Homo sapiens: one gene and its partner. The protein of the gene in region 1 interacts with the protein of each later gene in a pairwise test. Each region holds a gene or a part of one and is shown in the gene's direction. Other genes may lie near its edges. The genes, in order: CYP4F12 and SOD2.

Region 1 (3,815 bases):
GTAGAGAGGGGGTTCACCATGTTGTCCAGGCTGGTCTCAAATTCCTGACCTCAGGTGATGTGCCCTCTTTGGCCTCAGAAAATGTTGGGATTACAGGCATGAGCCACTGTGCCCAGCTGCTTCTTCTTTCTTACAGGGTGAAAGAGAGAGGGAGAGAGAGAGAGACAGAGAGACAGAGAGAGAGAGAGAGAAAGAGAGAGAGAGTTGGTTATGCTGGGGGCTGGAGCAGGGCTGAACTGGAAGAGGATGAAGTCTGAGTTGTGTGGACAGTTTTGGTAAGGAAAATGATCAGTACTGCATACTGGATGGGAGACAGAGGAGAGAAGCATGGTGTCCAAGCTATACTCTAGGTGCCTAGGTGCATGGAGACAGCTCTCTCAGAGATAGGATGCAGGGAGAGAAGACAGTCTAGAGAGTCAGTCTCATGACTGATACCCACCATGTATCTCTAGGACCATCTATTTCTAGATACTCAGTTTCCTGATGGGAGGTAGCTCCTGGCTGCTGGTGGGAGGTGTTCCTGGGGCTTTGCATACGTTACATTGTTGCCTCCCTTTCTGCCCTTGCTCTGCAGGAGGCCCAGTGAATATATTGCCACCATCTTGGAGCTCAGTGCCCTTGTAGAGAAAAGAAGCCAGCATATCCTCCAGCACATGGACTTTCTGTATTACCTCTCCCATGACGGGCGGCGCTTCCACAGGGCCTGCCGCCTGGTGCATGACTTCACAGACGCTGTCATCCGGGAGCGGCGTCGCACCCTCCCCACTCAGGGTATTGATGATTTTTTCAAAGACAAAGCCAAGTCCAAGACTTTGGATTTCATTGATGTGCTTCTGCTGAGCAAGGTAGGTTTCTCTATGATCTGAATTTAGGTGAGAGAATAGAGCTTCATGTCAAATGTCAGGTGAAATAAATTGGTTTTGATCCAAAGGGCACTGGGAGCCATGGAAGATGCTTGAGAAAGGGAAGGTCACAGATAGGTTTTAGAGATGACTTTATTGCATGCAGCCCACAGGGCACTGCTAATTCTGAAACTGTGAGGAGCATGATATTTTATTCAACTTATAAGTTAGTGTGTTAGTCTTTCACATTTTTATGTGTATCTATATGTCTATGTCTTTGTCTATGTCTGTATCTATGATAAAAGATGCACCAAACCCCTGGATCACAGCAGCCCATTAATTATTTACAGCAGTAACAGCAGGTGGAGTAGGATGGTAGTGCTGGCTCCCCATTCCTAGGGCAACACAATGTTTTTACCTGTAAATGCACAAGAATTTGCACCAAGGAGAGGGGCCCCCACATTATGAGTATTATAGCTTATATAGGACAGCTAGCTCATATGCTCCTTCTTTATTACAGGGTGAAAGTTAGAGACAGAGAAAGAGAGAGAGAGAGAATGCTTTGTTCTGGCGTATAAACTACCCCTCTCCTGTGAGATGGCAATTTCTAGAGTTTTATAACCCAAATATCTTCTGGAAAGATAAGATTCTCTGGGTTTACCACTCTAGAATGTCAGCAAATATTTTTGGAGCAATACATAATTTCTAACCTCCAAGGCAAATTGCCATTCAAATATCCTGTACCCCAGGTTGCCAGTATCTTTTTCTCTGAAAGTCTGTATTATGCAGAAAAATGAAAATATTCGAGAACCATTGATTCCTGTCACCAGGGTCCAAAGAGGAGGCAAAGGATCTGGGGGAAGCCCTTGGAGTTGGGGCTTTGGTGATGGTGAACAAGAGAGATCTAGACGTGCAGAGTGCATTTGAGTTTCTGGAAGATCAGAGCTTCAGAGATTATCTCAGGTTAGACTCCGGAGTCTCAGAGATAGTATAATTTGTGTGTGTGTGTGTGTGTGTGTGTGTGTGTGTGTGTGTGTGTCTTGCTTTCTCTTCAGGATGAAGATGGGAAGGCATTGTCAGATGAGGATATAAGAGCAGAGGCTGACACCTTCATGTTTGGAGGTGAGGGTCCCAGTGTGGGACTACAGTGGAGACAGAGGTCCCTCCATCTCAGGATCCGGGTGGGTGGACCCTGGATCACTCCATTCTGCCCATCTTCCCCCTCCCTCCATCCTCCTGAGGGCCTCAATATCTGGGCGCTGTCCACCCTCCGGTGCTGAAGCCAAGCTTACCTGGCTGCTCCTCAGGCCATGACACCACGGCCAGTGGCCTCTCCTGGGTCCTGTACAACCTTGCGAGGCACCCAGAATACCAGGAGCGCTGCCGACAGGAGGTGCAAGAGCTTCTGAAGGACCGCGATCCTAAAGAGATTGAATGGTGAGTGCAAGTTCTTCTGGCCTGTTCCTGAGCCCATCATTGGTTCTGCTCCCCAAGTGAGGAGGGGTGGAGGAGTTGTTTTGTGGATTCTTCCACTATTGCTTAGTGGGTATAAAAGCAGAGGACCACAGGCAGGGCTTGATACCAAGCCTGGCTGTCAGGGGAAAAGTTGCAGGCCTTTAGGACCGAAAGACCCGGGCTGCTAAGAGAATTGGTGACAATGTGTGAGGACAGATAATGCTACTTTGCACATGTTCAGCAAATGAACTTCCCCTCCACTCTGTTTCTGTTCTCCCAGAAATATCAGTTTTTTCGAAAATCCTCACTTCTTGAATGTTTGCTCAGGTGGGGAGGGAGAAGTTGTTTTTGTCAATTCTTCCATTATTGCTTAGTAGTACTAGGAGCAGAGCACAGAGGCAGAACTTGGTATCCAACCTGGCTAGCAGGGGAAAGTTTTCAGACTTTTGGGACAGAGAGTCCTAGCCCGCTGAGAGAACTAAGGACAATATATGAAGGCAGACGATGACATCTAGACATGTTCAGTCAATGAATTTTCCCTTCACTCCTTTCTTGTTTACTCTGAATTATCATATTTTTTTCAAACATCTTTACTTCCTGAATGTTTACTCTTCTGTTCCCTAATTCCTACCCTCCGGTCCAGTCCAGGGAGTCCTAAGGGAGACCTGGGGGTAAAAGTCATCTATCTTTTGTCTAGAACACCTGCATCGTTCATCCATTCAGTCTTCATTCAGCAAACTCTTCCACATGCCTTTCCATTGCCAGTTCTGTTCCCACACCTTTCTGTGCTCTGGAGACCTGGAAAGAACCCTGCCTATGGATGTGTTTTCCAGGTACTCCCAGCCTAGTAGGAACAGTCCCCCACAAGACATTCCCAGTCCACATAGGCAAGGATGGAGTTGAGAGCAAGAGAAGCATGGCTGGGAGTACAGAAAGTGTGATAGAAAGTGTTTCAAGCCAGATCTGGTGGCTGTCGCTTGTGATACCAAGTACCGAGGAGGCTGAAGTGGGATAATCACTTGAGGTCAGGTTTAAGATCAACCTGGGCAATATAGAAAGAACCCATTTCTAAAAAAGTAAAAAACCAAAATAATAAAGTGCCTCAACTGAAACCCTGAATGGTGATCAGTAGGTGTTTGGATGCAGTAGTGCCCTAGGTCAAAAAGAAAGTCTGGGCAAAAATGCAAAAAGAGGGAGCAGGAGAGAGGGAGAAGAGGGAAAGAGAGGTTTGTGTGTCAGGGAAGGAGATGGTTATAAAGGGAGGGAGAAGTAAGAGGGAGGAAAAGTGAGGGAGAGCAAGATAAAGAGAGGAGGGAAGACAGAAGGAGACAGAGAGAGAATGAGAGAGAAAGGAACTGAGTTGTGATGAGATAATAACTATGGTAGTGAAAGCAGAGTCTGGCTGTGGAAAATATGGGAAAATGGTAATGGCTTCCATTTTAACCCAAAGGCAATGGGAAGCCATAACAAGTGGTTGAGCAGGGGAGGGGCAGGTCATATCTGGGCACCAGAAAGATC
Region 2 (3,815 bases), on another chromosome or scaffold:
ATAAATATACGTGTGCATGTGTCTTTATAGCAGCATGATTTATAATCCTTTGGGTATATACCCAGTAATGGGATGGCTGGGTCAAATGGTATTTCTAGTTCTAGATCCCTGAGGAATCGCCACACTGTCTTCCACAATGGTTGAACTAGTTTACAGTCCCACCACCAGTGTAAAAGTGTTCCTATTTCTCCACATCCTCTCCAGCACCTGTTGTTTCCTGACTTTTTAATGATTGACATTCTAACTGGTGTGAGATGGTATCTCATTGTGGTTTTGATTTGCATTTCTCTGATGGCCCATGATGATGAGCATTTTTTTCATGTGTCTGTTGGATGCATGGATGTCTTCTTTTGAGAAGTGTCTCTTCATATCCTTCACCTACTTTTTGATGGGGTTTGTTTTTTTCTTGTAAGTTTGTTTGAGTTCCTTGTAGATTCTGGATATTAGCCCTTTGTCAGATGAGTAGATTGCAAAAATTTTCTCCCATTTTGTAGGTTGCCTGTTCACTCTGATGGTAGTTTCTTTTGCTGTGCAGAAGCTCTTGAGTTTAATGAGATCCCATTTGTCAATTTTGGCTTCTGTTGCCATTGCTTTTGGTGTTTTAGACATGAAGTCCTTGCCCATGCCTGTGTCCTGAATGGTACTGCATAGGTTTTCTTCTAGGGTTTTTATGGTTTTAGGTCTAACATTTAAGTCTTTAATCCATCTTGAATTAATTTTTGTATAAGGTGTAAGGAAGGGATCCAGTTTCAGCTTTCTACATGTGGCTAGCCAGTTTTCCCAGCACCATTTATTAAATAGGGAATCCTTTCCCCATTTCTTGTTTTTGTCAGGTTTCTCAAAGATCAGATAGTTGTAGATGTGTGGTATTATTTCTGAGGGCTCTGTTCTGTTCCATTGGTCTATATCTCTGTTTTGGTACTAGTACCATGCTGTTTTGGTTACTGCAGCCTTGTAGTATAGTTTGAAATCAGGTAGCGTGATGCCTCCAGCTTTGTTCTTTTGGCTTAGGATCGTTTTGGCAGTGCAGGCTCTTTTTTGGTTCCACATGAACTTTAAAGTAGTTTTTTCCAATTCTATGAAGAAAGTCATGGGTAGCTTGATGGGGATGGCATTGAATCTATAAATTACCTTGGGCAGTATAGCCATTTTCACGATATTGATTCTTCCTATCCATGAGCATGGAATGTTCTTCCATTTGTTTGTGTCCTCTTTTATTTCCTTGAGCAGTGGTTTGTAGTTCTCCTTGAAGAGGTCCTTCACATCCCTTGTAAGTTGGATTCCTAGGTATTTTATTCTCTTTGAGGCAGTTGTGAATGGGAGTTCACTCATGATTTGGCTCTCTGTTTGTCTGTTGTTGGTGTATAAGAATGCTTGTGATTTTTGCACATTGATTTTGTATCCTGAGATTTTGCTGAAGTTGCTTATCAAATTAAGGAGATTTTGGGCTGAGATGATGGGGTTTTCTAAATATAAAATCATGTCATCTGCAAACAGGGACAATTTGACTTCCTCTTTTCCTTATTGAATACCCTTTATTTCTTTCTCCTGCCTGATGGCCCTGGCCAGAACTTCCAACACTATGTTGAATAGGAGTGGTGAGAGAGGGCATCCCTGTCTTGTGCCAGTTTTCAAAGGGAATGCTTCCAGTTTTTGCCCATTCAGTCTGATATTGGCTGTGGGTTTGTCATAGATAGCTCTTATTATTTTGAGATATGTCCCATCAATACCTAATTCATTGAGAGTTTTTAGCATGAAGGGCTGTTGAATTTTGTCCAAGGCCTTTTCTGCATCTGTTGAGATAATCATGTGGTTTTTGTCTTTGGTTCTGTTTATATGCTGGATTACTTTTATTGATTTGTGTATGTTGAACCAGCCTTGCATCCCAGGGATGAAGCCCACTTGATCATGGTGGATAAGCTTTTTGATATGCTGCTGGATTCAGTTTGCCAGTATTTTATTGAGGATTTTTGCATTGATTTTCATCAGGGATATTGGTCTAAAGTTCTCTTTTTTTGTTATGTCTCTGCCAGGCTTTGGTATCAGGATGATGCTGGCTTCATAAAATGAGTTAGGGAGGATTCCCTCTTTTTCTATTGATTGGAATAGTTTCAGAAGGAATGGTACCAGCTCTTCCTTGTACCTCTGGTAGAATTCGGCTGTGAATCCATCTTGTCCTGGACTTTTTTTGGTTGGTAGGCTATTAATTATTGCCTCAATTTCAGAGCCTGTTATTGGTCTATTCAGGGATTAAACTTCTTCCTGGTTTAGTTTTGAGAGGGTGTATGTGTCCAGGAATTTATCTATTTCTTCTAGATTTTCTAGTTTATTTGCATAGAGGTGTTTATAGTATTCTCTGTGTACTCTGTATTTCTGTGGGATTGGTGGTGATATCCACTTTATCATTTTTTATTGCATTTATTTGATTCTTCTCTCTTTTCTTGTTTATTAGTCTTGCTAGCGGTCTATCAATTGTGTTTATCTTTTCAAAAAACCAGCTCCTGGATTCATTCATTTTTTGAAGGTTTTTTTGTGTCTCTGTCTCCTTCAGTTCTGCTCTGATCTTAGTTATTTCTTGTCTTCTGCTAGCTGTTGAATGTGTTTGCTCTTGCTTCTCTAATATTTTTAATTGTGATGTTAGAGTGTCAATTTTAGATCTTTCCTGCTTTCTCTTGTGGGCACTTAGTGCTGTAAATTTCCCTCTACACACTGCTTTAAATGTGTCCCAGAGATTCTGGTATGTTGTGTCTTTGTTCTCGTTGGTTTCAAAGAACATCTTTATTTCTGCCTTCATTTTGTTATGTACCCAGTAGTCATTCAGGAGCAGGTTGTTCAGTTTCCATGTAGCTGAGTGGTTTTGAGTGAGTTTCTTAATCCTGAGTTCTAGTTTGATTGCACTGTGGTCTGAGACAGTATGTTATAATTTCTGTTCTTTTACATTTGCTGAGGAGTGCTTTACTTCCAACTATGTGGTCAATTTTGGAATAGGTGCGATGTGGTGCTGAGAAGAATGTATATTCTGTTGATTTGGGGTGGAGAGTTCTGTAGATGTCTATTAGGTCTGCTTGGTGCAGAGCTGAATTCAATTCCTGGATATCCTTGTTAACTTTCTGTCTCGTTGATCTGTCTAATATTGACAGTGGGGTGTTAGAGTCTCCCATTGTTATTGTGTGGGAGTCTAAATCTCTTTGTAGGTCTCTAAGGACTTGGTTTATGAATCTGGGTGCTCCTGTATTGGGTGCATATATATTTAAGATAGTTAGCTCTTCTTGTTGAATTGATCCCTTTACTATCATGTAATGGCCTTCTTTGTCTCTTTTGATCTTTGTTGGTTTAAAGTCTGTTTTATCAGAGACTAGGATTGCAACCCCGGCCTTTTTTTTTGTTTTCCGTTTGCTTGGTAGATCTTCCTCCATCCTTTTATTTTGAGCCTATGTGTGTGTGTCTCTGTACGTGAGATGGGTTTCCTGAATACAGCACCCTGATGGGTCTTGACTCTTTATCCAGTGTGCCAGTCTGTGTCTTTTAATTGGAGCATTTAGCCCATTTACATTTAAGGTTAATATTGTTATGTGTGAATTTGATCCTGTCACTAGGATGTTCACTGGTTATTTTGCTCGTTAGTTGATGCAGTTTCTTCCTAGCCTCAATGGTCTTTACAATTTGGCATGTTTTTGCAGTGGCTGATACTGGTTGTTCCATTCCATGTTTAGTGCTTCCTTCAGGAGCTCTTGTAAGGCAGGCCTGGTGGTGACAAAATCTCTCAGCATTTGCTTGTTTGTAAAGGATTTTATTTCTCCTTCACTTATGAAGCT

Evidence for each region.
Region 2: the proteins of CYP4F12 (region 1) and SOD2 interact in a two-hybrid assay, tested with the Homo sapiens proteins (one large-scale study listed by BioGRID and IntAct).

The regions. Positions count from the first base shown.
Region 1 is NC_000019.10:15,682,919-15,686,733, forward strand, and holds part of CYP4F12 (cytochrome P450 4F12), read left to right. Parts: intron 1-574; coding exon 575-845; intron 846-1,897; coding exon 1,898-1,964; intron 1,965-2,149; coding exon 2,150-2,279; intron 2,280-3,815. UniProt on the Homo sapiens protein: A cytochrome P450 monooxygenase involved in the metabolism of endogenous polyunsaturated fatty acids (PUFAs).
Region 2 is NC_000006.12:159,672,493-159,676,307, reverse strand, and holds part of SOD2 (superoxide dismutase [Mn], mitochondrial isoform A precursor), read left to right. Parts: 3' UTR 1-3,815. UniProt on the Homo sapiens protein: Destroys superoxide anion radicals which are normally produced within the cells and which are toxic to biological systems.